2 separate regions of the Homo sapiens genome follow, and region 2 is linked to region 1. Evidence: fine-mapped expression QTL. A gene starts in region 1. The other region holds a variant in brackets. All regions are shown on one strand. Distances are from middle to middle.

The links. PIP is the estimated chance that this variant, and not a neighbour inherited with it, causes the effect.
Region 2: its variant is fine-mapped to the expression of ELOVL6 in whole blood (TOPMed, PIP above 0.99).

The regions. Positions count from the first base shown.
Region 1 is chr4:110,189,905-110,206,620 of GRCh38, reverse strand. ELOVL6 (ELOVL fatty acid elongase 6) reads left to right here and starts at 8,006. Exons shown (of 4, transcript NM_024090.3): 1 at 8,006-8,374. The coding sequence starts at 8,286. RefSeq lists enhancers at 7,633-8,425, 10,014-10,308 and silencers at 9,340-9,969, 10,170-10,279.
Region 2 is chr4:110,154,385-110,171,100 of GRCh38, reverse strand. All of the region lies in intron 1 of ELOVL6 (ELOVL fatty acid elongase 6), which reads left to right. Among named protein-coding and RNA genes, the nearest start is that of ELOVL6, 36 kb to the left of the region's middle. The variant T/A (reference allele first, on the strand shown) is at 8,723.

The sequences.
Region 1 (16,716 bases):
CTGGTGTCATGGGAGGAAGGCTGCTGGGGAGCCATGGTCAGGAGATTGAATAGTGTCCCTTCCTCCAAATTCATGTCCACCTGGAACATCAGAATGGGACCTTATTTGGAATAAGGGTCTTTGCAGACATAATAAAGATAAGGATCTAAATGAGATGATACTAGATTAGGGTGGATCCTAAATCCAATGAAAGTGAGTTTATAAGAAATAGAAAGAAGACAGAAAGACGGAGAGAAGAGGGTGATGTGAAGATGGAGGCAGAAATTGGAGTAATGTGTCTACAAGCCAAGGAATGCCACAGTTTGCCAGCAACCACCAGAAGCTAGTGGTATGGGACAATTTCTTCCTCAGAGCCTCCAGAAGCCAACTCTGCAGACATCTTGATTTCTTTTTCTCCCTAAACTGATCAGCAGTATTTTGATTATTTTTTTCCTGACACCTGGATTTTGGACTTCTAACCTCCAGAATGACATGAGAATACATTTTTGTTATTTTTAAGCCATCAAGTTTGATCAAGTTTGTGGTAATTGTTATGGCACCCTAAGAAACTTTGGCTTCAGGAAGTCATCGTTCCTGCGATCAAGGGATTTTTAATTTCCTACATGGGAGAGGATGATGAGCTAAGGGCCTGAGGTTTATAAAAGCTTTGATAACAAGGACTTCAAGAGGTTAGGAGACAAGAAAGAGAGAAATCATCTCTGTGAACAGGGAAGGCTTTAAGTAGGAAGTCGTTCGTAAGTATCCAAAGAGTGGACTGATTTTGACAGGTAGGAATGGGACAGGTGGGGTTAGGAGGGGAGGATATTGATATTCCAAACAGAGGGAACTGATGGAGAAATGCAGCAGAGATAGCAAAGTTTGAGGTGGTCAGATGACATCAAGTGGTTCAGCTTGGTTGGAGTCGGCCTAAGGAAAGAGGCCTGGAAAAGCAGATTAGTGTTAGAAGTTTCCGAAAATAATGTATGTGTATTTTAACATATTTGTATGTCACAAAAATTGGGGGCTGGTATGAAGATCCTCCAGCATAGTACTGGTTATTTTATGTATAGAAAGAAAATTAGGCTGGGTGAGGTGGCTCACGCCTTGTAATTCCACCATTTTGGGAGACTGAGGCGGGAGGATCTCTTGAGCTCAGGAGTTTGAGAGCAGCCTGGGCAACGTGGTGAGACCTCATTTCTACAAAACATTTTTTAAAAATTAGCAGGGCTTGGTGGTGGGTGCCCGTAGTCCCAGCTACTTGGGAAGTTGAGGCAAGAGGTTCACTTGAGCCCAGGAGTTCAAGGATGAGGTGGGCCATGATTACACCACCACACTCCATTCAGCCTGGGCAACAAAGCTAGACTGTCTCAAAAAACAAAAACAAAAACAAAGAAAAGAAAAGAAAATTAAAGGATCAATTTACTTTCCCTAAAGTCAGATACCTGTCTGTAAAAGAGCCAAGACTAAAACCTGTATACCTTGTTTAGTAGTCAAGTCATCTTTGCAGTAAATCTTTCTGTCTTTCAAATACTCCTCCTTCTCTTCTGGCTTAATTTTTATTTTTTTCTCGAGACAGAGTCTAGCAATGTCTCTCAGGCTGGATTGCAGTGGCGCCATCTCAGCTCACTGCAACCTCTGCCCCCCGGGTTCAAGCGATTCTCCTGCCTCAGCCTCCCAAGTAGCTGGGATTACAGGCGCCCGCCACCACGCCCAGCTGATTTTTTGTATTTTTAGTAGAAACGGGGTTTCACTATGTTGACCAGGCTAGTCTCAAACTCTTGACCTCATGATCCGCCCACCTCGGCCTCCCAAATTTTTAAAAGTTTACTACCAAATATAAATTAACTGTTACTTTTTGAGCCCCAGTTATTTATATTCAATATTAGCTACCTATCTAGTTATGGTTAGAAACACACACAATAAATCTTTTCATAAAAATTCTTAGTGGTGTTGCTGGGCACCCTCCCAACATTCCCTCCCATCTTTCCTAACCTTACTGTATGTCTTGTAATTGAAAATAAGTCTAGAAAAATCACCATTTTATATGTTTAGCTTCTAATATTATGTTACATGTTAAGTTGTTCAGTATAGAAAATTACAAATAGAAAAGTGACTCATTATTTCACAGCTCAGGTATTCCTGTTGATTTTTTTTCTTTTTTTTTAAATGAAATCAAGTTCATGGTAAGAAAATTCTAGCACTACAGAAAAATAAAGTACAGAAACCGTCTTTTGTTTGCTCTCAGGTTTTTTCTCAATGTATACATCACCAATTAATTCTTGTTTTTGTCTTTCCAGAAAAAAAAAGTACAGTGTAGATGTTTCTCTTTTCTTTTCTTTCTTTCTTTTTTTTTTTTTTAGCTGATGTCTTGCTCTGTTGCCTTAGGTTGGAGTGCAGTAACACTAACATGGCTCAAGACCACAGGCTTGTGCCACCACATCTGGCTAATGATTTTTTAAAAATTATTATTATTATTATTTTCTTTTTGTAGAAACAGGGTTTCACTATGTTGCCTAGGCAGTCTCAAACTCCTGAGCTCAAGCGATCCTCCTTCCCCAGCCTCCCAAATGGCTGGCATTACAGGTGTGAGCCACCACATCCGGCCTTACATGTTTTCCTCTTTTTTTCCTCCCCAACCACTACAACGAGAGATGTTTTTTTCTTAATGCGACACTATATACACAATGTCCTGTGCCTTGCTTTTTCATTTTCCTTGAACATTTATCAGAAATCTCTTTTGATGTTGCAACCTACAGAGCCTTTTTTAAAAGACTTTATACTATTCAATTATAAGGGTGTGTCACCATTTATTTAATCAGCCTCCTATTTGTTAGGGTCCACCCAACCGGACTGTTTCCCCCTCCCCTAGACCTAAGCCTCAAAGGCCAAAAGTAAAACCCACTACCCTAAACCTTCCTGTAACTGTCTGACCAGAGGCCAGCTGTTCCAGGATGCAGTCAAGACATCTACCTCCACGCCTGGTGCTCAGAGAACGTTTTACACCCCCTTTTTGCCATACAGTCCCAATTCTGCCTCCCTAGCCAAGGTATATTCTTTCTATGCAGCACCTCCACCTGCTTCTGTCTACCCACCAACTGTACAGGCACCTGTACACTGGTCTTCCTCAGCCCTAAAATAGACATAGCTCCAGGAGAAAACCTGCCCCTCCAAACCCTAAATACTCAAATCCCACACAGCAGGCGCCAGGCCATACAACTTATCCCACTATTTGTAGACCTAGGCATCACAGTGGCCGCAGGTACAGGGGTAGCAGGAATCGCAACCTCCTCTTATTACCATAAAACCTTATCAAAAGACCTTTCAGATGGTATAGACAACCTTGCAACTTCCATATCCCCTTACAAGCTCAGCTGGACTCCCTAGCGGCAGTCGCCTTACAAAATCAGAGAGGTCTCAACCTACTTACCACCGACAAAGGAGGATTCTGCATTTTCCTAGATGAAGAATGCTGCTTTTATTTTAACCAGTCAGGCTTAGTTCAGGATGCAGTAAAAAACAAACAAACAAACAAACAAAATCTCAAAGATCGAGCCCAAAAGATCAGGGAAAGCAGCTCCTCTACGTGGCCCTCTTGATCTCTCAGCACCTGGGCCGCCTGGCTACCCTCTCTCCTTGGACCTGCTGTAATCCTTTTTCTCCTCCTAATCTTAGGTCCTTGCCTAATACTCCTCTTCACCCAGTTTTTGCAGAATCGTATCCATGCCTTTGCCCATGGAACCATACAGGTCATGATGTTACTCCAGGAGTATCAACACTTTCAAAACCAAAGCCAACCTCCACTTTCCAGCCTTTCCCCTAGCCCCTGCCCACTCTCAGCCTGAAGCAGTCTGATGAAATCAATGCCCCTTCTCTATCATCTGTTAAAAGGCTGGAATGTTAGGGTCCACCCAACTGGACTGTTTCCCGCTCCCATAGACCTAAGCCCCAAAGCCCCACCTGTAACTGTCGGACCCGAGGCCAGCTGTTCCAGGATGCGGTCAAGAAGTCTACCTTACACAACAGAACTGGCAAGAAAAACAACTCCAGGAAGCGGTCAGACACCTGGCACAAAGGATCCCCTACTCCCTGGCCTTTTCTTTTTCCTTCACCCTGACCCAGTTATATGCCCTATAAAACCTTGCTATATAGCCTGTAAGCGGGGCTGCCTCCTCTGCTTTTGTCAAGAGGTAGCCCACCAGGACTGACAATGAATCACATTGACTTGAGTCTATTGACCTCATTCCTTTCTTGGCTGTCCTTCCAATTATCCCTTAAACTATTATTTTCAGTGTTTTATTATAAACAGTGCTGAATATATTTGTGGGGGTTTTCTTTGTTGGTGTTGTCATTTTTTGAGACAAGGTCTCACTCTGTCATTCGGGCTGGAGTGCAGTGGCGCAATCATGGCTCACTCCAGCCTTGACCTCCCCAGGCTCAGGTGATCTTCCCACTTCAGCCTGCTGAGTAGCTGGGAATATAGACACATGCCACCATGCTCAGCTAATGTTTTTGTATTTTTTTTTTTTGTAGACACAGGTTTTCACCATCTTGCCCAGGCTGGGCTTGAACTCCTGGGCTCCAGCAATCAGCCCACCTCGCCCTCCCAAAGTGCTGGGATTACAAGCATAATGCCAGCCCAATGCTGAATATCTTAGACATATATCCGGAATGTTTCGGTGAGTATATCCATAGCAGTGAATTTACTAGGAATTATCATGCTATTATTCGGTTTAACATTCTTTTATCCTCCTCCACTCCACTGCAGTTGAGAATAAAATCTAAACACCTTATCTTGATTTACCTGTGGCCAAGATCTGACCCCTGCCTGTCTCTTCAACCTGTTTCTTTCAATTACTCCTTACTGATGGCCTGAAGCCACACCAGCCTTTTGTCCTCAATCCCGCAAATTTATTCTTTTCCTAGGAGCCTTTGTACTTGCTCATTCTTCTTTGTAACACTTCTGCAAGAGGTGGCTGGCTCTTTGCCAGCGGGGTCTCAACTCAAAGTCCTTCTCCCTGAGGCCTTCCAGGTTTAAATGAGCACTCCCAGGCCTTCATGTCATGCTGTTAAATTGTAATCCTAGCATTTCATTCTCTAAGAAATTATTTTGTCTTCCCTTCTGGAATGTAAGCTCCAAGTGCGCAAGAGCCCTGTTTGTCTCATTTGTGAGTCCCAAGAGCTCAGATGAGTATGTACTCAAAATATATCTGGTAGGCCAAGTGCGATGGCTCACGCCTATAATCCTAGCACTTTGGGAGACTGAGGCAGGCAGATCACCTGATGTCAGGGGTTCAAGACCGTCCTGGCCAACATGGTGAAACCCTGTCTGTACTAAAAATACAAAAATTAGCTGGGCATGGTGGCACATTCCTGTAATCCCAGCTACTTGGAAGGCTGAGACAGGAGACTCACTTGATCCCAGGAGGCAAAGGTTGCAGTGAGCCGAGATCGCGCCACTGCACTCCAGCCTGGGCAACAGAGGGAGACATCATCTCAAAAAAAAAAATAATTCTGGTGAATTAATGGTGTGGATTTAAAATTGTGATATATGCTGGGTGCCTATAGTCCTAGCGTGGAAAACATAACAAGTCCCCATCTCTAAAAAATAAATGAAATTATCATATAGGCTGCCAAATTGCTTTCCATACAGAGTCACCAGTTTTCAAAGTCACTGACAGTGCTTGTTTGTTTTTGAGATAAGGTCTCACTCTGTCACCCAAGCCGGACTGCAGTGGTGTGATCATGGCTCACTGCAGCCTTGACCTCCCAGGCTCAAGCTATCCTCCCATCTCAGCCTCCAGAGTAACTGGGATTACAGGCATGTACCACCACACCTGGCTAATTTTTAATTTTTTGTAGAGATGGAGCCTCACTATGTTGCCCAGTCTGGTCTCTAGCAATTGTCTTGCCTCAGCCACCCAAAGTGGATTTTCTGTCTTGATTCCTTTCTCACTTCTTACCTTAATTTATTTGATGAATCATTCACTTTACAAATATTTATTGATTATTCACAGGCTCAGGCACCGTGCTAAAATGGTTCTTTCTTATCTGGCCACACCTATCTTCCAGCCCAATCTTGCCAAGAGTTTTGGCCTGGGCCTTACTTCAAAGTGACGTAGACTTGTACTGTAGAGGTCTCTAGAAAGACAACCCTTGGCTGGGCATGGTGGCTCATGCCTGTAATCCCAGAACTTTGGGAGGCTGAGACAGGTGGATCACAGCCAGCCTGGCCAACATGGTGAAACCCCATCTCTACTAAAAACACAAAAATTAGGCGGGCGTGGTGGTGCTTGCCTATAATCCCAGCTACTGGGGAGGCTGAGGCAAGAGAACCATTTGAACCTGGGAGGCGGAGGTTGCAGTGAGCCGAGTTTGCACCACTGCACTCCAGCCTGGGCAACAGGGCGAGACTCCTCCATCTCAAAAAAAAAAAGAAAAAGAAAAAAGAAAGACAACCCTTAATGGGGGAGATGAGGACAGTCCCTACACAGAATCTTTGGCAGTGTCAATGTATACATTAATTTGCTAATCAACTAGGCTAGCCCTTTAATCTATATATTGTACTGGATTTTAAAAATTATTTCTTTACTTTCTCATTAGACCTTCCTCTTTTTTTTTTTTGTTTGTTTGTTTGGAGACAGAGTCTCCCTCTGTCGCCCAGGCTGGAGTGCAGTGGCAGAATTTTGGCTCACTGCAACCTCTACCTCACGGGTTCAAGCGATTCTCCTGCCTCAGCCTCCTGAGTAGCTGAGGTTACAGGTGCCCGCCACCACGCCTGCCTGATTTTTATATTTTTAGTAGAGACGGAGTTTCACCATGTTGGCCAGGCTGTTTTGAACTCCTGACCTCAGGTGATCCGCCCACCTCGGCCTCCCAAAGTGCTGGGATTACTTCTGTGAGCCACCACCGCGGCCGGTCCCTTCCTCCTTTAAAAATTTTTCTCCCAGTTCCCACTTTTTGTGGGTTAGAGGCATCTAAATTGAATGAAAGTACCCTTTTTGGACTACTGGGGAGGTGGGGGGATGTTCTCAGAAGGGGAATTTTCTTTCTGGTCCTAATATCCACCTAATTTTTAAAAGCAGGGCTCCTTATTATTTTGTAAAGTTTACAATTACATCATTAGATACTTCCATGTCTCATATTTCATTTTTCCAAACTCTTGGGGGAAATGAGTGGAGGGATGGATGGAATAGAAAATAGTTTTTCCTCTTGGAGGCTGAGGGCCCAGTAGGGGTCAACAGTACATTCAGCCCTCTCCTCACATATTCTGTTCTACCTACAAGTACAGCAAGTAAAGCCAAATTTCTCATGCATGCAAATAAAGTTTTTGCATTTGGCCAGTCGGTCCAGTTCTCCTGTCAGCTTCCTTCCCCACTCTGCCTCTGTTCATTAATCCCCCCCTTCCCGGTACCTAAACCCTCCACCTAACCCAGCCCTTTCTTCCACTTCCGGCTACTAGCCTCTCTCGCCTATCCACTATCCTCACACTCAGCATCCCCTGTCTGTACGAGATTAAGGAGCTCTGCCGTCCGCAGGGCCTGGGTTAGCGTGAATCTAAGCCAGAGCTCCCGGGTGGGGGTGGGGGTAGGGGTGGGGGTGGTCCCAGAGGTAGGGCGAGGAGGTGGGAAGCGTATTCCCTTCACTGGTGATCTCAACGTAGATTTGCCCGGAGTTCTCTTGCAAGAGAGCTGGCAGGTTTTACTATTTCCCAATCGTTTACTCGCCAAGCTCTCGGGTCCACGCGCCGCGGGGATGCGCCCTGCAAGCTGAAACTTCATTCAAAGCAAGGCGGCCCACGAGGTTGGGCTTAGGGGATCTGGATGACCTCCAGGCCACTTCCTTTCTCTCTGCGCCCTTCCCCCACTCTTCCAACCACCTTCGCTGTAAACAAAACTGTCCCCCCCGGGCGGAGAGAGGTCGCGCTCTTTCGCACACTCCCTCGCCAAGGGTTAATTTCTCAAATCGCACGAGGGGGAGGAGATTTCCCTGTAGACGAGTAAAAAGGGTGATGGACAAACGTGCGGGCACTAAGACCGCAAGGCATTCATTTCCTCCTACGGTGGATGCGGACGCCGGGAGGAGGAGAGCCCCAGAGAGAGGAGCTGGGAGCGGAGGCGCAGGCAATGCTCAGCCCTGGATGTAGCTGAGAGGCTGGGAGAAGAGACGACCGCTGGAGACCGAGCGGCGTGGGGAAGACCTAGGGGGGTGGGTGGGGGAAGCAGACAGGAGAACACTCGAAATCAAGCGCTTTACAGATTATTTTATTTTGTATAGAGAACACGTAGCGACTCCGAAGATCAGCCCCAATGAACATGTCAGTGTTGACTTTACAAGAATATGAATTCGAAAAGCAGTTCAACGAGAATGAAGCCATCCAATGGATGCAGGAAAACTGGTACGTGATGCTTTCGCCTGATACTGTTCCCGGGAGCCCTGCGCGTCTTCCCGGAGTGCCTTAATGTCGGTATTCCCTGCCTGGGCGTGAATGGAGCGATGAATCGCGGGCAGCCAGCTGATCGCTGAGTTCTCGGGTCTCCCGGGTGCAGGAGACGCTGGGGGGGGGGGGGTACATGAAGCGCGAGGTCTGTGGGTGCCCCTGTGTGAACCGCGGCTACATAGGCATCTTTTATATAGATTATATAACACAGAACATATGTGTGTGCACAGGGTGATGTCTGCGCGACAGGGAAGGCGGGAGAGATGCCACAGTCCAGATCGCCTACCTGTGCTCCCCTCCCCTCCCCCGGTTTTCATCTAGATTTGGGTTTTCTCGCTTGGCCTCTCCCGCAACCGGAGTGTGAAAGGCAGTGGAGGGAGGACCTTGTCTCCTGTTGCCTTTAACCCTCTCCCGCCCGCCGCCCTTGGCCCTGGTCCTCGCTGTCTCTCCATCCCTCGTGTCCTTCCTTTCTCCTTGCAGCGCTCCTACTTCACCGTCCTCCTCTGTCTGCCGCTCCTCAGGCGGATGCCCCCTTTTTAGTACCCCTTTCCCCACGCGGTTCCCTTTCCGGTTTCATAGAGAGACCGGGTGGGAGGGAGGAGGGGACAATGAAAACAGTAATAAATGAATGAACCCGAGCGAGTGGAGCCACGCCATTATTAAGTTTCTGTTTTACGGAAACGCCTTTTGGACACACTTCTAATTCTGTGCGTAGCTGCTGATTGGAGTTCAGGCACACAGATTAAAAGCCCCTCCGTCTGCAGAGTCCTTAGGGGCTCTTCCCTAGGAAACTAATAATCAGGGAAAACACCTTTCTTGTTTACTGTAGTCCCCCCGCCAGACCTTTTGAAAATCCCTGTGTGGGAGGCGATCCAGTGTCACCTTGCAATATTTAACAGAGGAGGGTGTGCTCATCTCGCTTCTTGTAGACAGGGTTGTGGCAGAGGCATTCCTCTCCTCCCCTTAACTTCGGGTCTGGCGATCTGTAAAGTTCAAGCCCAACGCACCCCGGAGCTAGGCAAGGGGCCGGCAGCCCGGGGGATGGCTTGACCGGGGAGGGTCGGGCCGCAGGGTCTCCCGGGAGCCGGGGGATTCCGCCCGCCGCGTGCGCGAGCGCGCGTGCCCCGCGCCCTCCCGCCTGCCCTCTTCAACTGGAAACCAGAAACGCCGGCGCGCCTGTGGCCTGGGCGGGTTGGTGCAGTAGGAGCTGGTGCCACGGGGCCGCAGCTGCGAAAAGGGGGTTTCAACTTCCTGTCCTCCAGCCCCCTGGAGTCGCCGGCCAGTGTCGGGAGGCCCGGCCGCCGCTTCCTTCTCCTCCCGCCCGGCCGGAGCGCGCCCACTCCCAGCTTCCCGCGGGCTGGTCCGGGCCCCAATGGCCATTTGCGGCGGCTGCCGGGCGGAGCCCGCCTCCTGGGCCGCGCGCACCGGCGGGGCAGGCCTGCTTGGGGTGAGCTGCGGCGTGGCTGGTGGCGGCGGTGGGCTAGGGGCCCAAGGGCCGCGTCTGGCCCGAGCCGGAGCCTAAGAGGCGGGGACGCGGGCCGCTCGGAAGGACTGGAAGTGCAGCAGCCACACAGGCACAGGGCTGGTGCCCTCCCGGGCCGCTGAGGCCAGGGGGTGCAGGGGTGGGTCCGGAAGGAGGTTGGACACTAAGGGTCGAGACCGCAGATAGACCTCGGCGTTTCGGGGCAGCCGAGGCCCCTCGAGCCCCACCGCCCGGGGTCCTTCTCTGGATGCACTTCCTCCTCCCGCTTAGGGGGTGGTGCTGGAGGCGGGGAGGGGGCGGTGGCCGGAGCCGGCGGGCGCCGGAACCGCGCTGCTGGCTAGCCCCGGGCCCGGGTCTTCTCCGCACATGTTTGTCATATCCTCCAGCCGGCCTGTTCGGGCCCACAGTCCTCCCGCATTAGCCTGTGTGGTCAGTGTGGTCAGCATTTGCTTCTGTGCCGAATCTCTGACTTGCTGCGTCCTGGTTTAACCTGCTCTTCCGGAGTCCGCTTTCCCTCGCTTTGCTGGCTGACCCCATTCACTGTACGCCCGCCATTCCTAGCCCACTGCAGTCGATACTGCCTCTTATTTACTTGTTGCTTTTTCTCTGAGGCCACTTCCTAGGCCTGCTTCAGGTACCATTTCCCGCCTCTTCTCTCCATTCACTCAGTACTGAGCCAGACAGGTCTCAGCCCTCGTGGGACTGAAAATGACAAAAATGTGCCAACGTATCTACTCCTGTTAGGTTCTGACCACTGTTTCCTCCTAGTTCTTTATCTGTACCTTTCTTCTGGCAATATCCTTTACTGTTATATACATGGTTATTAACTTACAGACCATCAGCTCTTCAGGTTACGGTTCTTGTCATCCCACTCTTGATTCTGCAAAGCACCTAGCAGAGTGCTTTGCATAAGGCACATTCTTGAGAAAATGTCCAGTGAGTTGAAATGGTGATTGGTGCCCATTTTATTGCCAGCACTACTCGTTAATACCCGAAGGTTAACAGGCTAGAACTTGCATACCGTGGCAGAGTCACATCTTGGGATTTTTCCCTTCCTGGCTTCTGCTCTCTGTTGATGTTATGTTCTTAGATTGCTTATTGCAGTCAAAGAACCCTGCTGGCTGTTACCCCTCCCTTGCAACTCTTCCTGACCCTAATTGTCTTACTTTCATGTTTTTTTTTAAATGCCAGATTTTGTGCATTTCTCCCAATATCCCAGGGTGCCCAATTTTATCTCTCCTCCCTCCCCAAAAACTGTACAGCCAAAAAGACTTTAAACACTTTTTAAAATTTAATTTTATTAGCCGGGTGTGGTGGCTCCTGCCTGTAATCCCAGCACTTTGGGAGGCTGAGGTGGGTGGATTACCTGACGACAGGAGTTCGAGACCAGCCAGGCCAATATGGTGAAACCCCATCTCTACTAAAAATACAAAAAAATTAGCCGAGCGTGGTGGCGGGTGCCTGTAATCCCAGCTACTCGGGAGGTTGAGGCAGGAGAATTGCTTGAACCCGGGAGGTTCAAATTAAAGCTTTTAGTTTTTATTTTTAATAGAATCCAGCTAATGCAGGACAAAAAGTCTTGAACCAGATTTTCTTTTCACTCCCTTTTTAATAGGAGAAGGGAACTCCATAACCAAGGCTTAGACCCTCTTGAGGAGAGAGGAACTTGAGGAAACCATAAAATCTTACCTTTTTCAGACTCATTAACTTAAAATGGTTTGAAATAGCTTCTGGAGGAAAAACATGATATAGTGAAGCTTCTACTCTGTCTTTTGGGAATTTATGGTTGTCCTTATAAATCTCTTCTTAGTAACAGGCAAAACTTGTTAATTTAGAGAATTAAAACATCCTCTCTCAAAAGTGAACTACATTGGCTTTTGAAGAACTGTGAGAATGGCCAGGAGTAGTATTTTGCCAGTATGCTGCCTTTGCTAACTAGCATCATTTAAGAGGACCTAAAATAAGAATACTTTATTAAACATACGCTATAATCCATACTTACTAACCATAGCGCAAATTAATGTTAACATACCCTATAATCCATACTTACTAACCATAGCACGTGTTAATGGAATGGGGCCCGACTTTTGGAGTAGCATTTGTATAAACCCTAAAGGGTTCAACTGAGGCTAGTTTTCAAGTTTATTGCTGCTTTAATGAATCATTAACCTCATACTCATTGGCCTAGCCATGAAAGTAAATACTGCAGACTTTTTTTACTTTGCTAGCAAAAAGTTTCATATATAATAGGTTAGAATAGCAATTGAAATGCAAAGTAATAAGTGTATTCCCTTGTAGAATCATCCTGGGCCTCATCTTGAAACTACATGTCCAGTGAAAAATATCCTGTCTGGTTATATTATCTGGTCAATGAGAGTTTATTACATGAGGTAGAGAAAAATGTCTGCTCATAGGTCCAAATAGGAGTTTTGAATTCTAATTTTCACTGAAAAGTCCTTGCAATTTTACAACATTGAAAATAGAGACATTTTGCTCTTTTATGAGATGTCTGGCCTTTACCTGTTTTTCTCACTAAGAGCTGACTTAAGTTGGAAGTGCTGCTAGCCAGGGAGCAAAATCACCTGGTGATTGCTAAGGCGACATATAATTCATTGAGTGAGAAGGGAAGCTGGGCTCTCTCTGCCTTCTCTTTCAGCAGCCTGCCAGGTTTGTGCTAACAGCAGTGGATGCTAGTTGCTCCAGTTGTAATTGTCTAGCCAATGATGATTATCTTCTGATGTCGGCTGACACGGTGCCCACCAATAGGAAAGCAGGAGGCCTGTGCTGACTGCTGTAACATTATGTATGTGAGGTGACGTCTTCAAAGGGCTTGCCTAGAACTTCATGAAACCCTCCCCCTCTCCTGGCATTCTCCACACATCCAGCCTTTCAAAGCTTTATATATTTTTCTGACTTTTCTCCCCACTCACTCCCTTGGTGGTGTAAAAGGGTTTACTTGTTTTAACATTTTGTATTCTGTATTATAGAGTCTATAAGATAGTATAGGAATTTTAAGAATTAAATGCTGTTCAGCTGAGGAAGCCTTTTTATTCACAAATTTGTTTTTACCAAAGGTAAAAATGGAGTGAAACATTTTATTTTATTTTGTTTTATTTTTGAGACAGGGTCTCACTCTGTTGCCCAGGCTGGAGTGCAGTGGCACAATCTTGGCTCACTGCAACCTCTGCCTCCGGGTTCCAGTGATTCTTATGTCTCAACCTCCCAAGCAGCTGGGATTACAGGTGCCTGCCATGACACCAAGCTAATTTTTGTATTTTTAGTAGAGATGGGAATTCACCGTGTTGGTCAGGTTGGTCTTGAACTCCTGACCTCAAGTAATCCGCCCACCTCGGCCTCCGAAAGTGCTGAGATAACAGGCTTGAGCCACTGCAACCGGCCGTGAAACATTTTAAAAGGAGTTGTACATCTATATCTTTTTTGTAGGTGAAGTTTGGAAAGTAACACGATGTACAATTTCATGATTAAAGAACATAAAAAGCACTAAAAACCTGTGTTAGCATTTAACTCAAATATAGCAGCATAAAAAATATAGCAGCATAATGTTAATGAAACTGTTCAAATGCAGACATAGTATTTGGCTGTTGTTTTTCATTTAGTGAGGATTGCTTTGAATTGCTTCCTGAAGTCTTCCTTGCAACCTTCTACATTCATTTGTAAGAAAAATGGCTGGAAAACAGTGCATCTGTGACTATGGAACAGAGTAGGCCAGAGTTTCATTTCATCATTAACATTGCAGCAACAAATTTGGTCAGCTCTGTAGGAATATAGTGTGTCTATATTGTACTCATGTCACTTGCTGTTTATTTTGAGGTATCACAGTTCATATTGATTTAGGATTAAAACTTGTGTGAGGATCATAACATGACATTCAATAATTTTTAGAAAGCACTGGGATGTAGGCATATGTACTAGGTTAAGAGTGAGAAGAATGAGAAAATACATAGAGAAAAAACGTGTAATCTGTGTGGGGTCCTAGAAAATAATGTAAAGTTGTGCTGGAGCTTTGATATGAACTTTCATGTATCTTTTAATAAATTATAAATATTCATGCAATTCTTGTTTAGGATTCCAAAGGATGAAAGCCAGCTTAATGCAAAATATTTTATGATTATATTATCCATCTGTGTATTTGTACTAGTTATAATTAGTGCTTAAAATTTTTTCATGAAGTCTTTTTCACATTGGAAGTAAAATTTTGTGATCTTCAGAGGATTGCCTGTTGCTTTTTTGTTTGAGGGTGATTCTAAATGTGTCAAAGTGTATAACATTGGAACTTAATGAAACTTTTCAAATGCAGACATAGTATTTCACTGTTGTTTTTCCTTTAGTGAGGATTGCTTTAAATTTCTTCCTGAAATCTTCCTCGTAACCTTCTGCGTGCATTTGTAAGAAAAATGGCTGGAAACTTCAAAGTCAACTTATTCCATATCTAAGAGTTGCCTTATATACTTCCTTGAAAGAAGAATCTTTCTTTTTCTTTTTTTTCTTTCTTTCTTTTTTTTTTTTTTCTTGGATGGAGTTTTGCCCTTGTTGCCCAGGCTGGAGTGCAATTGTTCCATCTCGGCTTACTGCAACCTCTGCCTCCTGGGTTCAAGTGATTCTCCTACCTCAACCTCCTGAGTAGCTGGGTTTACAGGCATGCGCCACTACACCCGGCTGATTTTTTTGTATTTAGTAGAAACGAGTTTTCACCATGTTAGTCAGGCTGGTCTCGAACTCCTGACTTCAGGTGATCCACCTACCTCGGCCTCCCAAAGTGCTGGGATTACAGGTGTGAGCCACCATGCCCGGCCAGAGGAATCTTTCAGCTTAGATAGTGGAAGAGTTATGAGGGGGACGGAGGTTTTGAAATACTTAGGGGGATATACAATAACCATCTAATCAATTTTCTTTTTCTTTTCTTTTTTTTGAGCCTGGTCTTGGCTCACTGCAACCTCTGCTTCCTGGGTTCAAGCCTCAGCCTCCTGAGTAGGTGGGATTACAGGTGCCCGGCCCCCCATCTAATCAGTCTTTAGACAACAAAGTAAAATGAGTGTGGCACCATTCTGGCAATTCAGGAATTTATCTTGGCTTAAGTGATCTGAAATATTTCAGGTCCAAGTATTTTATTTTCTGAAATGAGTTAACCAAACATTGTCTTAATGATTAACTTAATTTTTCACATATGGACACAGGTGAGCCAAACTGTCCTTTATTAATAGGAACCAGACATCATTCTACAAAGTTTGCCTCAGCCCTCCCTTTACTCTTTATGTAGCTCACATCCACCCGCTCCCATTTACTTCTCATTTATCTTTTTTAGGAGGGTTTAGGGAAAGTTACCTGTACCACATATGTCATTTCTGTTGATAACCCTAGGTAATCTGAGTGAAACTATGACTTGGCTATATTGTAATGTTAAAACTCATAACTTCATTCCTTTATCCAGATTCTGATTGTACATGTATTCAGGCAGGTACAAATGTTGGCATAGTTATTGAGGTTTCTGAGAACTTTAAAAAAACCCAGCATCTCTAATTATATTTACCCTCCAATAATTTATTTTAGAGATACATGGGTCCTTTTTTAAAAAGTATTGTATGGGTCGGGTATGGTGGCTCACACCTGTAATCCCAGCACTTTGGGAGGCCGAGGCAGGCGGATCACTTGATGTCAGGAGTTCGAGACCAGCCTGGTCAAAGTGGCGAAACCCTGTCTCTACAAAAAATACAAAAATTAGCTGGTCATGGTGGTACGCACCTGTAGTCCCAGCTACTCTGGATGCTGAGACACAAGAATGGCATGAACCTGGAGGCGGAGGTTGCAGTGAGCTGAGATTATGCCACTGCAATGCAGCTTGGGCAACAGAGCAAAACTGTGTCTCAAAAAAAACACAAAAATTGAAAAAAAAAAAAGTGGCCGGGCATGGTGGCTTATACTTGTAATCCCAGCGCTGTGGGAGGCTGAGGTGGGTGGATCACTTGAGGTCAGGAGTTCGAGACCAGCCTGGCCAACATGGTGAAACCCTATTTCTACTAAAACTACAAAAATTAGCCGGGCGTGGTGGCGGGCGCCTGTAATCCCAGCTACTCCAGGGGCTGAGGCAGGAGAATCGCTTGAACCCAGGAGGCCGAGGTTCCAGTGAGGCGAGATTGCACCATTGCACTCCAGCCTGGGCAACAGAGTGAGACTCCGTCTCAAAACAAAACAAAACAAAAAAAGTATTGCCCAAGAGTAAAGAATATGAATTTGTAATTTTAAGTTGGTTGTGCAATAGTTATCCCAAAGCTTGGAACCATGTCAGTCATCTAAGGTCAAGCCTACACATTTATCATGATTCCTTTCTGCATTGAGTGTTTGCGACTTTTAGTTTTAAGGTTCCTATTACTAGGAAACCCTTTGCTGAGTTAGTTGCCCACTGTGAACTTACTGAGATTTAACTTTAAGTCTTTACTTTGTACAAAAAAAAAGTACAGGAGAAAAAAGACTTACACTTACCTTTGCTAAGATAAATTTGCTGAGATAAATTAGACATGCTGATTGTAAGTAGTTTTGCTAGAAAATCACTCATAGTTTTGTAATACTTTTATTTACAGGGATTCATATTTCAGTTTTTTTTTTCTTGCTAAAACTTTTATAGAAGAGTTCCTAGTTGTGATATAAGGAAAGTTTTATTGATGAAATATATTTTGGGGAGGGAGATCTACCTCCTCAAAACACACATGAGGTTTATAATCCAATTTTTTTTTTTTTTTGAGATGGAGTCTGGCTCTGTCGCCCAGGCTGGAGTGCAGTGGCATGATCTCGGCTCAGTGCA
Region 2 (16,716 bases), 36 kb after region 1:
GAAACCCAGCAAGGCCTGTCTGTTCAGATTCTTCTTGGCCTGTGTGTCACATTCCTTCCTCCAGGGTAAGGGGCAAGATCCCTTCTGAATTGAGGGTCTCAGGACTCAATCAGAAAGGCCTGGGAAGGTTAGAGTTCTGCCTTGGGCTGGGGAAACCAGGGCAAGGGAAGGTCAGAGAGAGAGAGATTCCATTTTTTGAGGCCTTTTTCTGGGCCTAAAGTGCCCCAACATTATAACAAAAGACTTTAACAGGGCTGTGGGAGTTGCGAGCCAGGAGCTGTGGATGAAACCTGTATATATAATATCACACATCTTATTTAATATATTGTTGATTTGTTGACATTGAGCTTGCAGTCAATATCAACTCATGCCTGAACTAAGCTAATCTAACGTGTTTTTCTAAGGCAAATCATAATCTTGTGGTTAAGAACACTCCTCAGCATGTCAGCACTAGAGGCCAATTTAAATAGGGAAATCATGAAAAAGCACAAAAATGTAAGAAAGGTAGGACCAAGTACACTGCAAAAAGGACATTTGTTTAGAGAATGAGAGTCCAAAAAAGAAGCAGAGCATCACTTGGTTTAGCCTCAGCTAGGGATGTGCACATTGGGCAACTTAATTTTTTCACTGCTCTTTGCATGACCACAAATGACTACAAAAGTACTATGAGTATTGATTTGGAGGTTACAAATAAATTTTAGCGAGTATGCTAAATAAGTATGAATTCTTAGTAATGAGGATCAGCTGTATTCTGTTCTAGAAGTAACATGCAAAGTTCAAGCCTTTATCTTGTTTTTTGCATAATTCAAATTTATAATGGCAGCACACAACCTATACTTAGCAGTAAATATATCACAAAATGCTGATAAGGGAACTTTATTTTCATATAGAGAACTTGTCTTTTCAAATTTAAATCATAAAGCATGTTCTTAAGGCTGGAGATTTAAAAAATTTATAAATCTAATAAATATAGAAAACAAAATATAGGCTGGGCTCAGTGGCTCACGCCTATAATCCTAGCACTTTGGGAGGCCAAAGTGGGTGGATCACCTGAGGTTAGGCGTTCGAGGCCAGTCTGGCCAACATGGTAAAACATGGTAAACCCCCATCTCTACTAAAAATACAAAAATTAGCCAGGTGTGGTGTCACACGCCTTTAGTCCCAGCTACTTGGGAGGCTGAAGCAAGAGAATCGCTTGAACCTGGGAGGCAGAGGTTGCAGTGAGCTGAGATCGCACCATTGCACTCAGCCTGGGCAACAAGAGGGAAACTCCATCTCAAAAAAAAAAAAAAAGAAAGAAAGAAAAGAAAACTAAATATAAAATGAATATAAGCATAAATTCATAAAAATAAAAATTTTCTTAAAATTAGATCAAAAATTTTTGTTTCCTAAGGGAGAATCCAGAGAGAACTGGGAAGAAGAGTGGATAATTTCCAAACACCTGTGTGTGCTCACACACACACCGTGAATCCTTCACCATTGTTTTAATATGGAAGATGATTGGAGTGTGTTTTCTAGAAATTCTGAATAATACTTATTTAAAGACTTCTATTGGGCTGGCCAGGCATGGTGGCTCACGCCTGTAATCCCAGCACTTTGGGAGGCTGAGGTGTGTGGATCACCTGAGGTCAGGAGTTACAGGCCAGCCAGCCTGGCCAACATGGTGAAATCCCATCTCTACTAAAAATACAAAAATTAGCTGGGCATGGTGTTAGGCACCTGTAGTCCCAGCTACTAGGGAGGCTAAGGCAGGAGAATCACTTGAACCCAGGAGGTAGAGATTGCAGTGAGCCGAGATCGCACCACTGCACTCCAACCTGGGTGGCAGAGCGAGACTCCGTCTCAAAAAAAAAAAAACAAAACAAAAAACCCCAAAACTCTGTTGGGGTCGGGTGCAGTGGCTCACACCTGTAATTCTAGCACTTTGGGAGGCCAAGGTGGGTGGACCCTGTCTCTACCAAAAATACAAAAATTAGCCAGGTGTGGTGGCATACACCTGCAGTCCCAGCAACTTGGGAGGCTGAGATGGGAGAATTGCTTGAGCCCAAGAGGTCTAGGCTACAGTAAGCCATGATGGTGCCATTGCAAACCAGCCTGGGTGACAGAGTGAGACCCTTTCTCAAAGAAAATAACATTTAAAAAAGACTTACTGGACGTTTAATAAGGATATTATTAACTAATAATCATTGAGCTTACCACGTACCCACTAAAGGCTTCATGAACATTAATTTAATTAACCCTCCATTTTATGAAGTAGGCTTTGTGATTGGGCATGTCTTGGAGATGAGGTTAAGTAACTTGGAAAAGGTGGGACACCTGGTGATTGGCAGAGTGAGGCTTCAAACCCAGGCAGTCTAGGTCCACACTGCCTGTCCACAGAGTCTGGGTCTCTCCTGCTTTGGCTTATGACGTCAGCACCTACTGGGAAAATTACAGAAACCATTTTCAAAGGTGATATTTTGAAAAGCATATGGTGGGGCTCATTTTGTTTAAATGAGCTCTGCACAATGAAAGCACGTGAGAGCAGTTTTTGAAAAAGTTCTGATTGCATCCATTGAATTTGACTTTTTTTTTTTTTCTTTTTTAGACAGTCTTGCTCTGTCGCCCAGGCTGGAGTACAATGGCACGATCTTGGCTCACAGCAGCCTCTGCCTCCTGGGTTCAAGTGATTTTTGTGCCTCAGTCACCCAAGTAGCTGGGATTACAGGCATGCAACACCATGCCTAGCTAACTTTTGCATATTTTTTTAGTAGAGACGGGGTTTCGCCTTGTTGCCCAAGCCGGTCTCGAACTCTGGGCTTCCAGCAATCTGCCCACCTCAGACTCCCAAAGTGCTGGGATTACAGGCATGAGCCATCACACTGGCCTGAATTTGACCCTTACTCTAATGATTTATAGCCATATAATTCTCATGCAATAAGCTAAAAATACACCTAAAAATGATTTACTCTCAAAGGGTTTTAACTTTTTTTCATTGAATCTCTTTTATGTTCACTTAAATTTTGGCTCTGTTCATAAATTGATACAAAGACAAAATTTCCACTAAAATATTAATCTTAAGTAGTAGACGTTTTCTAACTATACCTTCCAATTGGAATTAAGCATTTAATCTAAAATTATATATCAAAAATACAAGAAAGAACTTCCTTAATTGCCTGGATATGTTTCTGCCTCTCAAGGCCTCAGAAAGTTTTGTACAAACTGTTAGAATAGCCCTAATCATGGAGATAGGTGTTTTATTTTTTCTCTCCAAAAGCATAAGAGAGGTTGGGTGCAGCAGCTCACGCCTGTAATCCCAGCACTTTGGGAGGCCAGGGTGGGAGGATGGCTTGAGGCCAGGAGTTTGAGACCAGCCTGAGCAGCACAGGGAGACCCTGTCTCTACATACAAACATACATACATACATACATACATACATACATACATACATACATACATACATACATAACTGAGGTGGTGGCAGGCACCCTGTAGTCCCAGCTACTTGTGGAAGCTGAGGATCATTGCACCACTGCACTCCAGCCTGGGCAACAGAGTGAGACTCTGCCTCAAGAAAATAAATAAAATTTATAATGTTCCCCCTTCACTCCCCTCTCTGCAACCAAAAAAACATCCTTTAGTAACTCTTATGTAACCATTAAAACTATATTATAGAAGAATATATCTTGACAAAAAAAATGTATACCACATGTTGCAGAAAACTCTGCTTATGAAACAGCATGTATAATAACAAGGCCAATTTGTAAACACACACAGAGAGAGACATATTTACAGTTAGTATAAGGTTAAGTACTTAACGCTGTATGTACTAAAACACAAGTCCTTTTACTGTGCATGTAAAAATACTCTAATAGCGATTACATTTTGAAGATGGGATAAAGTTTTTATTCCTGAGAACCAGAAGTGTGTCTCAATGCACCTAATATTTTTGCCAGTGGAGAGATACTGAAACCCTGTGATCTTCAGCTACTGTGTGCATTCAGACTGTTTGGTCTTCTTGGGTCAAGTCAGCTGGTGATTACTAAATGATGAGAGTGTGCCTGACATGCAGGAGACAGGTGAGAAGACAAAGAAATAGAAGGCAATGTCCTAGCATTGGCAGACAGACAGACCCTCTGTATATATTTCAACTTATTTGGATCACAGTCTGTTTAGGAAGGCAGATGTACATGCAAAATACAGTAGAATGCTACAGAAAAAGAACAAATATTCCAGTGCTGGAATATAGTATTATAGTAACTATAGTATAGAAAATCACTATGTGCTAAGAAATTTAGAAACACTCCAGCAAAAGGCAGGGACTTTGAGAGCTAATAGTTGGGTTGATGAAAAAGGAAGACGGAGTTTCCTTTCATGGTGGTAGCACCAGAATACTCATGATGTCTTATATGCTAACCATGAGGGCTGACCATGCTGAGATTAACAGGCAGTGTTCATTGCCTTCTGGCAGCAAGGGCAAAAGTGGAAACACAAGAATTTTTTCTTTTTTTTGAGACGGAGTTTCACTGTCACCAGGCTGGAGTGCAGTGGCGCGATCTCGGCTCATTTACAACCCCTCCTCCCGGGTTCAAGCGATTCTCCTGCCTTAGCCCTTCTAGTAGCTGGGACTACAGGGCGCGTACCACCACACCCAGGTAATTTTTATATTTTTAGTAGAGATGGGGTTTCACGGTTGTTGGCCGGGATGGTCTCGATCTCTTGACCTCGTGATCCACCTGCCTTGGCCTCCCAAAGTGCTGGGATTACAGGCGTGAGCCACCGCGCCTGGCTGAAACACAAGAATTTAAGAGAATTCTTGTTATCTGAAAAGAAAGGTGATGTCTCATTATTGCTCAAGTAAGTTAAGAACAAACCAAGGTCCTAGCCCAAAGACAACAACATTTGAAGGAAAATCAGGGATATAATGTCAAAGAACACTGCAGTCCAGGGGCGAAATGAATGTGCCTTGAGCAACTTCTCTAGGATCTCACTTGATAGCAGGCTGGGATTTATAGTACCCAGGGGAAGGCTGACAGTATCTTTCCTCCAGATCAGCTCTGAGCTGGGCTTTTGTTGATAAGCTGTCCCAGGAGTGCTGAGGCTCTGTCACTGACAGAGGAGGCAGATGTATTGAAAGCAGGATCGTGGGTTGATAATTTGTTAGGGATGTAGAGAAGCCTAACTGGTTTTCTTACGTGGAAAAGACCACCCTCTTTTCCCACTTCCCAGATGTGCTAAACTCTTCTGGCAGAGGATATAGGATTGTCCTTGGGGAATTAGCCTTGGGTTCACTCCAATGCATGGGTAAATGTTTGGTTTTGCAAGGCAGGTGTTACCTGGCCAGCTCCACATACTTTATTACAAAAATCCTCCTGTTAGTTCTGACAGGAATGCATCATAATTGTTATTTTATAGTTGAGGAAGCTGACTCTCAAAGAAGTGATTAACTCATCTCTGTGTGTGATTCAGATGAGATTAGAACCGCCCAGCTCCTGAGACCATGCTACTTCCTGCCTACCACAGCCACATGTGCTACAGAGAACAAAGCTGAAGTGCAGGCTGCTGTGTCTCTGAGCTAGACAACCTGAGCTCATCCCTCCTGTTTCTTGCAGTGCTATTAAAATGGAGGATTTGATGAGCAGCAGTAGCTGAGAGGAGAATCAGCCTGGCCTGACTAAGGTTTATGTGGGGTTTGAGGAATAAAGTTGGGTTGTGAGGGTCGATTGGAAGCTTGGAAGCCAGGCTAAGGAGTTGGAGTAGGTCTGCTAGACAGGAAGGAACCACAAAATCAGGAACATAATGGTGGAAGGGCCTCCTGTAAATTGTCGATACTTAACTATTTTGGCCTATGAATGGCAATAGCACATGGTTCCACTAAACAGGTGCCCTGGTATTGTTTTCTGTGAGAGGATAATGGAGAGGGTTGCTTATAGTTTGTAGATATCTAGCAAATGGTCTGTTTTGCTAGTCCAGCTAGTCAGAAACCAGTCCTCTTTTTGAAGAATAGAGATCAAACCTGCTCTACAAGCTTATATGTTTACCACAATTTGGGTGGCATGATAAAGACTAAATGCACAGAAAGGCCACATACCACATTACATTCAGGAAATCCTTTCTTAGTTGGGTGTGGTGGGGTGCACGTGTAGTCCCAGCTCCTCGAGAGGTTGAGGTGGGAGGATTGCTTGAGCCTGGGGGGCAGAGGTTGTAGTGAGCTGTGATTGTGCTACTGCACTCCAACCTGGGCAACAGAGTGAGACTCTGTCTCAAAAAAAAGAAATTCCCCAAAACAAGAAATTCTTTCATCAGAAATAAATGAGCAGCCTACCAACCCACCTGCCTTCCAACCTGAGTGTTTTTTTTTTTTTCTTTTTTTTTTTTTTTTTGAGACAGGGTCCCACTTTCACCCAGGCTGGAGTGCAGTGGCGTGATCATGGCTCATTGTAGCCTTGACCTCCCTGGGCTCAAGCGGTCCTCCCACCTCATCCTCCTGAGTAGCTGGGACTACAGGTGCATGCCACCACACCGGGCTAATTTTTCTATTTTTTGTAGAGATGGGCTTTCGCCACGTTGCCTCAGCTTGTTTCTGCCTTGGCTTCCCAAAGTGCTGGGATTACAGGCATGAGCCACCTCACCCGGCTGTGCTTGCTTTCTTGTGACAAATGTTCATGGCATCTTGTGGCAGACTTATGAAAGCTGAGTTAGGTCAAAGTGTTTCCTTAGTGCCTAGCTCAGAATACTCATGCTATACAAACCGTTTTACTTTTTCCTTTCCTAGGGTGGCCTTGGCTTCATCTTCCCTCACCTTAACTTGTCATCAGGGCAGCAGTGTATCAAACTCTGGGACCTGTGGATTCAGACACAGTTTCAATTCTGCCTTTGCTACTTAATGACTTGGTGAACTTGAGCACATTCATTAACCTCCCTAGGCCCCCATTTCTAAGTGTGAAATTGAGATAATCAAATTAGGCTGTAGTAATAATTAAACTAGTTAAGGTGTGTCAATGGCTTACAAAATGTCCAGCACTTTCTAGGCTCTCCATGAAAAGTAGCTTTTACTGGCATGACTCTCAGCAGATATTTTAGTATTATTTTGCTTTCAACTGAGTAATGAATTCCTAGCCAACATTTTTGAACTTCTCATTACACATTCAGAAATGTCATGTCACAACCAGGGCTAAGAACTTTTCATTGCTCCCAAATTGCCTGTCACTATGACTCAGATTTACCCACCTGATAAGGAAGATTCCTTGACCTTAACTCACCATTCGATCTTACAGTTAGTTCTCCCATTGCTCTATAAGTATCTTATGACCCTGGCAAATTAAACCACTGGAATATCTCTCTTCTTTCTCTATTTCTGAAACTTAGAAAGCCCAACTCAGTGCTGCCACCTTCATACAACCTTTTAAGGTTTTGAACTTTTAATCTTAAACTCTTCCATTTTTGCTTTTCATTTGGCAGTGGTAGATTTTCTCATATTAAAGTCAGTTGTGACTTGTATATCACCCTTCTAGCATTTTATACTCATTGATGATAAGACTTGGCCTTCATCCCAGTCTGCTACACTATGCGGTCAGTCCATAACTGTTAAATTTCAGTGACTCAGTTTGATGAATATTTATTGAGGAGCCTGTATTTGCCAGACTCTGTTCCAGGCACAAGGCCGCTGTTCTCAGAGACCGTTCATACCACTAGGACACAAACACTAAACATGTAAACAAGTATATAGACAAAATAACATTAGATGTTGCTAACTGCTATAAAGAAAATAGTGTGATAGGAGGTGACTTGGGGCCAGAGGGAGCTGTTTTAGCTAGGGGGTCAGGGAAAGCCTTACTAAAGGATTGGCATCTGACCTAGTAGCAAATGAGAAGACCATGTTAGCCCTGGGCCCATCTAGGAGAAGAGAGATCCAGATAGGACACAACAAATACAAAGCCCCCTCAGGTGAACTGTGTATGGCTTCGCACCCAAGTAGGCTTCTGCTTTCTGTTTTGTGTCTGAATACCTCAGATATTGATTGCACATTTGAATTGTAGTTTGGAGTTCATATATTCTCAGTGTGATTCTGTACTATTTTTATCTAAATGATTGGGTCTTTCTTCATTCACAGGGACTGATTTTCCCCTACATAGTCTTGGACACAGACCATTTAGTTCAAACCCCAGCTGCACCACTGACTATCTGGGTGACCTCAAGTAAATTGTTCACTCCTGAAGACTCAGTTTTCTCTTCATCAATGAGTGTCCCAATAACTGCTTTGCAGAGTTGTGAAAATCTAATTAAATAATGTCTATTAACTAGTATGTAGTAGAAGCTCAGTAAACAGTGGAATTTATTATGTTGCATATCACATTTGTGTACCTTAAAATTTGGCGTACTTCAGCACATTCATTAACCTCCTGTAGGGAGGCAGGAGGAAAATGGCAACTTTAATTTTCTGGGGAAAACAGTCATCCAAAATATCTATATATTCAGGCCTGGCACAGTTGTTCACACCTGTAATCCCAGCACTTTGGGAGGCTGAGGTGGGTGGGATTGCATGAGCCTAGGAGTTGGAGACTAGCTTGGGCAACATAGCAAAACCCTGTATCCAAAAAATAGAAAAAAAATTAGGCATAGTGGCATGTGCCTGTAGTCTCAACAACTCAGAAGGCTGAGGTGGGAGGATCACCTGAGCCTGAAGAGCTCAAGGCTACAGTGAGCTGTGATTGCGCCACTGCACTCCAGCCTGGGCAACACA[T/A]TGAGACCCTGTCTCAAAAAATAAAATAAACCCACAACCCACAAGATGTCTATATTCAGCAAAATGGTTCAGCACAGCCTCTTGAAATCACTACATTAAAGTTTTACTGAGTCTGACTAAAATTAAGAAAAAATTTTGGTTGTCTGTTACCTTTATAATTAATTTTACTATGGGTAATCTTTCAATCATTTGCTCAGTTTTCTACTGTTAGCATTCTTTTAGTTTATTTTTTAACTTTAGATTAAAACAATTATAAACTAGGCATGGTATAAAATTTAAAATGTTCCACAAGGGTATGCAGTGAAAAAGTATTTTATATAAAGGACTACATCCCTTTCCCCAACCACACAATTCTCCTCCCTGCGGATAGCCAGTGTGCTCTTCAGAGATGTTTTGTGTGCACAAAAGCAATTACAAATAATGAGATTCTCATTATTCCAGGTAGATATGTTCTGTAAAGTCACCGCAAACACTGAACTTGTGAATATGGAACCCTTGCACTTAGGGAAATACAGCGTTAGTTTCCTGAGAGCTTTTGGTTACAATATTTCTGATCAACACATAACCTAGTTTTGTGTGTGTTTCTGCTTAAAATACCTTATTTAACATATATTGTTGATTCCTTAACATGGAACTCACAGCCAACAGCACTAACTCATGCCTGAATGAAGCTTATCTAACATACGTAGTTTCTCTGTAAGACCTGTTGAAGCCTTCTCGTTCTTAGGAACATGAGATAGCAGTAAGCTTGGGAGCCATTTTAAACCGTGAAATTGCCAACACAAAGCACAAAAATTGGAAAGACATGGAACTAAATAAGACTGCAAAAGAGACACCTATTTTGCAGTATGAGAGCTGAACAGGAGGCAGTGTGTCACCTTGCTCCACCTCAGCTGGGGATGTGCAGGTCAGGCAACTCCAATTTTTCATCCCTCTGTGCATGTTTGAAAATGACCATGAAAGTGCCATCAGTATAGACTTGGGGTTAAATTTTCATAAGTAGGAGAATTTGCAAATACAGAATCAGTGAATGAGGATTGACTATATATTTTTTTCCTTTAAGAACACAAATGCTAGTATATAATACATAGCATTTTGTATCTTACTCTATGGACTTAACAGTGCATCTTGAAGATATTTTATACATACACAGACATATTTCATTTGAGTAAACTACGAGCTTCTGCATTCTATATTGTTCAGGCTGTATATAATCCATTACATGGGCGTTTGTGTTTTTTTCCAGTCTTTTATTACTTGGATTACATTGCACTGGAAATGTTGCTAGATACTGTCTTCTGTAATGGTTGTATATTATACCTCTCTACCACCATTACAAGAGGGAATAGATAGCATTCTTTCATGTAGCAGCATCCATTGCTAATTGTACTGGATAATGACTTGAATTCTATTTATTCTTTAGTACTGATCTACTCTGTTGGAGAAACCAATAAGGTGCAAGACTCCACTGAATAGAAAAGCAACAATTAAAACCATAAAGGAGTCAGTCAGTGTGTGAGATGCTTGCATTCCTTCTCTCTGTTTAGCTGTTTCCCAACCCTTTTATTTGTTGCATGATCATATCTCTTATCCTTATCTTCACTGTGGAATATAGTCAGTGTTTCACATGAAGGAATTTATTAATTTCCCTTTGTAATTAAACTTTCTATAGAAAACAATGTATTTCAAAAGTGCACATTGCAACAACATATGGGCAACATGCATATTTTTAGTATTTAATTGTTACAATAGCCTAGAGAGGATAATTTCAGTAAATCAAAAATATCTGAAGCTTAACCACCATGAGACTGGTGTTGATGGAAGCTTGTAAACTAGCACGCCTATGCAAATTATTTACTGATACTGTTTTTAATCCCTGACTTCATTTCAGTAACAAGAGATAGACCATAGACCAATAAGTAATATATTATTATAGTTTGTATATACATAGCATGTCTGATAGCGATTCCTGCTAATGAGTAAAGCAACACAGGAAGTCAGGGGTGGGTGGGCCAGTGGAAGGAAGATATAATTTTGCAGGGATGTTCAGGAAAACAATATTGAGCAAAGGCTATAAAATAGTGAGAGTGATCTATGCCAGTTTTGAAATTCAAGGCCAAGGAGAGGGCCAGTGAAAATGCTCTACCTGTAAGGAGCTTCTTTGTCAAGGGAGACAGGGTGTCAGGAGCAACACTGTCATGGAAAGATCTCCAAGATACACTGTTAAAAAGACATCCAATAGTGTTTGTGTGTGTGTGTGTGTGTTTGTGTGTGTGTGTGTGTAAGTTGTAAGCAAACCCTCATGTGTTGTTTTTTAGAAAACTTTGATGTTTAAGTGTTTTTCTTTAGGTGCCACTTTTCCTAATGTTAAAAGAGGTCGTACCAATCCATAAGAAAAATATAGCTCAATAATAACGACATGAATAGAAAGTTCACAGGAAAGGAAATTTTTTTTAGCCATTTCTTTCAGTAGACATGTGAAAAAATGCCTAAATATACTCATAACGGAAAAAATAAAATAGCAATGAGATACACTTTCATCTTTTAGATTGTGAGAGGTTAAAATTTTTGAGCAGTCATCTGAGTGTTAGAGAGAAATGTGCTGTTGAAAGTGTGAATTTTTGTACATTTTGGAATCCTTTTGCAGGGTGACTTTGCATTCTCTGTAACTGTTAGAAACACCAACGTCTCATGTGTTAATGTGCAAAGATCTCAAAGATACATCATTGTAAAGTGAAAAACACCAAGATGCACGATAGTTTTTAAAATATGATTTTTAGAAAGTATATGCATTTATTGATACGTGAATATGCATAAAAATCTGAAGTGGAAGAGAGTTCATTAGGAAAGAGAAGGAGACTTGGCTTTTATTTTACAACTCCCTGTGTTACTTGACTTTTAAAAAAAAAAGAAAAACTGTGTACTTTATTTCTATAGTAAAAAATTAAAACCATACAAATTTAATTGAAAGATAACTTCTTTTTCTACTTTACATGATTAAGCAAAGTAACTTTTGTCATCAAGTTATTATCATTGTCCTCTCATATATTGTTAACTAATAGTTCTCTTGTACTATAAATCCCATGACAGATTTTTGTCTGTCTTGTTCCCCTGGGTTTGCCCTGGTATCTGGGCACATGGAAGGCACTCCATAAAAGTGTATTGACTAAATGCATAAAGGAAAATCTTTATTTAAATAAAGTATCTAATATTCCAGCATGACACTATCTTCATGCTGTCAGGTATATAATTATTGTCTCAGTTTTACAGGTAAAAGAGAGAAAAATCTATGCAAATCACAATGTAAGTCTAGAAGTGATTAAAATTGATAAAAAGCAAAGCAACTATGCAAAGTAAGAGCTGAGATTCAGATTTTGTGAGTCATGACTATTTGTTTAACTTAGTAATCCAATATCTTGGCCAGGCACGGTGGCTCATGCCTGTAATCCCAGCACTTTGGGAGGCCAAGGCAGGCGGATCACCTGAGGTCAGGAGTTGAAGACTAGCCTGGCCAACGTGGCGAAACCCCATCTCTACTAAAAATACAGAAATTAGCCGGGCATAGTGGCATGCGCCTGTAGTCCCAGCTACTTGGGAGACTGAGGCAGGAGAATCCCTTGAACTTGGGAGGTGAAGGTTGCAGTGAGCTGAGATTGTGCCATTGCACTCCAGCCTGGGCAACAAGAGCGAAATTCTGTCTCAAAAAAAAAAAAAAAAAAAATATATATATATATATATATATACACGTGTATATATGTGTGTGTATATATATGTGTGTGTGTGTATATATATACATATATATATAGATGTATATATATATCTCTCTCCAATATCTTGGCTGCCAATTAGAGAATGGTTATTAAATTTTGTCCTGGTTCTTGACTGATCGTGCCCTCGGGATACAGAAAAATGTTAATGAGTGTGGAGTTTTTCTTCCTAAGAGTTGTGTTCCTTCTCAGTAAACCTAGTATGATTAGAGGAAATGTGTAGGTTGATCTCACAGGTGCTACAAAATAAAGCACATGATGTTTAGTTAAAAATGTTTGTGATCTTCAAAATGGGGTTTATTGAATTATAGACTGTGCACACAATGGTCCACTAGGTTGTTCTTTACTGTAGTTATCTATTTCTGTGGAGATGGATGAATATGTAGTGATGTGGAAAGATGAACTTTTCATAATATAAAGCAGAATAGGGTTGTATAGTATGTTTGGATTTTTGTTAATAACATGTTAAAAGTGTCAAATTGCCAACAAGGGCAAGAGCATAATATAATGATTTTCTGAAACCATGTGTTAAAGCATAATTAACTAACTTGACAAATACAGTTTCAATGTACTATATCCATGAACTTTGGTTTATCTTTGTGTTTATATATAAAGTAATTGGATATTTAATGATTATTTAAATGTATTTAGTTAATTCTTCTTGTACCTAGAAAAGGATTTGCCCTGTCAAAGACAAAGTGCTGGTCCACTTCTTCATGAATATATATTTCCTACTTTTAATAATTTGCTTGTCAATATAATGAGACTAACAAAGTGCCATTTAGGCTATTTCAACATGTGTAGTTCCCTGAGGGCACATAGCTTTACAGCTTCCATAGCAGATACTATAATTCCTTGAGGTAGTTGGCACTCAGTAAATGTTTATTGAGTTGATGATTTTCTTAAGGAAATAAAATATCCAAGAAATTTTTTTTTTTTTTGAGACGGAGCCTTGCTCTTTCACCCAGGCTGGAGTGCAGTGGCGCTATCTCAGCTCACTGCAACCTCCGCCTCCCAGGTTCAAGCAATTCTCCTGCCTCAGCCTCATGAGTAGCTGGGACTACAGGTGCATGCCACCACGTGCAGCTAATTTTTGCATTTTTAGTAGAGACGGGGTTTCACTATCTTGGCCAGGCTGGTCTTGAACTCCTGACCTCACTTGATCCACCTGCCTCGGCCTCCCAAAATGCTGGGATTACAGGCATGAGTCACCGCACCTGGCCTATCCAAGACATATTTTAGAGTATTCAGTCACTTCTTTTCCCTCCCTCTAATTACTGTGTACTATTATTTGGCATTTTACCAGCTCAAAGTGGAATAACTATTTTTGCTTCACATTGTATGTACCAAATTAATTTCATATTATGCTTCAGTTTCTCCTACTTTTTGCAATAAATTATAGAGGGAACAAATGAAGTTTGTGGTTACTTGACACTAGGGGCGAATAAAATGTTTGAGCCTTTCTTTTCCCTCCTCCTTCTTCTTGGCCTTGCTAGAAGAACCCCAAATGGGCAGTGACCCAGATGGCCATTTACTTTTGGACTATCCTCCTTTTCAAATCTGCCAAAAATGATTAATCAGAATGATGATTAGCCAGTTTCTATCAGTTGTTACAAATCAATTATGTGACTAAGGAAACTGCATCTTTTACCAGCCTTGTTATGGCTTCTTTTAACCGCAAATATCCAGTTACTGGTTACCATATGAAAGATTTCTTTGAGGACTAATTTTGTGTTTTCAGTGTGGATGCTTTTCAGTTTTATGATATATTTTGTTCCAAGGCAGATACTCGTTAATCCTATTTTACTTACTAAGGTAGTATAAAACTAACTGCTTAAAGAAATGAATTCAATCCACTTGTCTCTTCTGTCCTGAAAAAGAAGCATGTGCTTTATTACATGGGCCCGTTTCTTTTTCTGTTTTTTTGAGGCAGGGTCTCGCTCTGTTGCCCAGGCTGGAGTGCAGTGGTGCAATCCTAGCTCACTGGAGCCTCAGTCTCCTGGGCTCAAGTGATCCTCCCACCTCAGCCTTCTGAGTAGTCGAGACTGCAGATGCTTGGTGCCATGCCTGGCTAATTTTTTAATTTTTTGTGGAGACGGGGTCTCTCTAGGTTCCCTAGGCTAGTCTCGAACTCCTAGGCTCAAGTGATCCTCCACCCTTGACTTCTGCTGGGATTATAGGCATGAGCCACTGTGCCCAGCCAGAACCCTTTTATTTGTGTTAATATTTAGTAAGATTTTAGATGGAGGTCAGTCCAATGTGGAAATGTCTTGGAAAAGCCCTTACCTTTCATTATCTCCTCTGCAGCAATCCTTCAGGGAGAATCACATCCTAATTCTAGGTCACTTGTTACCTAATCCTCTTTTCCTGACACAGCTTCTCACTCCAGAAAACATTTTAACTTCCTGAATATTAAGATTCTACTAAATGTGGCAGGCTCTGTAACAACCACCAATCCTTTACATTTTCAAGGTGGCTCTGGTGCAGCCTCCAGTTTTCTTGTCTTCCCCTTCTTATTTTCTATTCCTTTATTTGTCTCTTGAATAGGTATTTAAAGAAAGGAAAGCAGGCATATTTGGATATGTGCCCACTAAGGCACTATTCCTGAGAGAAGTTTGCAAAATGTCTTTTTCAAATGCCTGTGTGCTTTATTATTCCTATACTGCCTTGTAGCAACGCTCATTATTCAGGGCAGTGGTTCTCAACATGAGCTGTGCTTCCCGTGTTGTAATTGTCTGGGAACCTTTTATAATCACCAGTGCTGAGGCCTTGACATCTGTGGAAGTGGGGGTGGGAGGTTAATAAATCTCTCCAGGAGATGTGATGAGAACCTGTGGTTTAGGAAGATGTTAGATACGAGGAGGTTGTTGATCTGCCCCCAAGCTCTCTAGCAATTCTGATTATTTTAAATGTACCTGCAATATGTAGCCATTGTATCATGCATATTGAACTGTCTCGGGGTCTAGATATGGATATATGAACCAGGACGACTTGGGACTCTTACTGTCTGGAAAGAATGGCATTGTGTTAGAGGAAAAATAAGTGTTCCAAAAAAGCTCAATCGCATAGATAAATTCTGATATTTGTGATACAAATTGTTAAACTTTGATTTTGTAAAATATTCAATTTGTAATACAACCTATTTAAGTATCTTTGATAGATTGAAAAATTATTTTTTTCTGACTATTGTAAATAATAATTTTTTTTGCTATAGATTAGGAGTTTCCTATGCTCTCAGTCTCTAGGGCTATCCCTTCTGTATTAGTATAACTATAACTATATAATATGTAATAAATAGTATGTGACCAAATGTAGGAAGATTTTTAAAGCCATGACCATTATGATTTGATTCTTAAAAAACAATCATAATAATTTATAATTGAAAAACTTTTAAGAAGTAAAAGTTTTGGTCTATGTGAGTGTGGTCAATAGGTACTTCAAAATTAAATGTTCATAGAAGTTTAAAAAATATATTACTAGTTATGCCCCAAATTTGCTAAATATTTATTGGGCAATTATATATTAGTATATAATAGCAGTATATGCTATGTAGATTGTATAGTACAATATATTGTAGCAAGCATATATTAAGTGCCTAACGTGCTTAAAATATATTGCTCATTTAATTCTCAAATAATGCTGCAAGAATCAGTCACAGGATTGATAACTGTCAAAAAAGTAAAAGTTGGACTCAGATCTCTCTTTGTGGAAAGTCCCTGTTTTGACCTCTAGCACATTTTTGACCTAGCATTTCTTCTCCAAGTTAATTACAAATAAGAGATAGGATCCATAGTTAGTGTGACATTATAGCCTGTGATTATCTGTTTTGGTGGTTACACTGCCACTTCCCTTTCATGTAGCACCAAGCCATCTTCTCAACTCAGTGGGGATGGTGTAAGAGAAAAGTTAGCAGCTGGTAAGAAATTCGGTTTGGGTCTGATGACAGAAATAGCTCAAAAAATAACTTTGCTGAGAGGCAATCACATGTTCACATCAAGAAATTAATATCACAGCCTGGGCAACACACAAGAGCTTGTCTCTATTAATAATAAAAATAGGCCAGGTGTGGAGGCTCATGCCTGTAATCCCAGCTCTTTGGGAGGCCAAGGCAGGAGGATCACATGAGGCCAGGAGTTCACGACCAGCCTGGCCAATATGGTGAAATCCTGCCTCTACTAAAAATACAAAAATTAGTCAGGTGTGATGGTGCATGTCTGTAATCCCAGC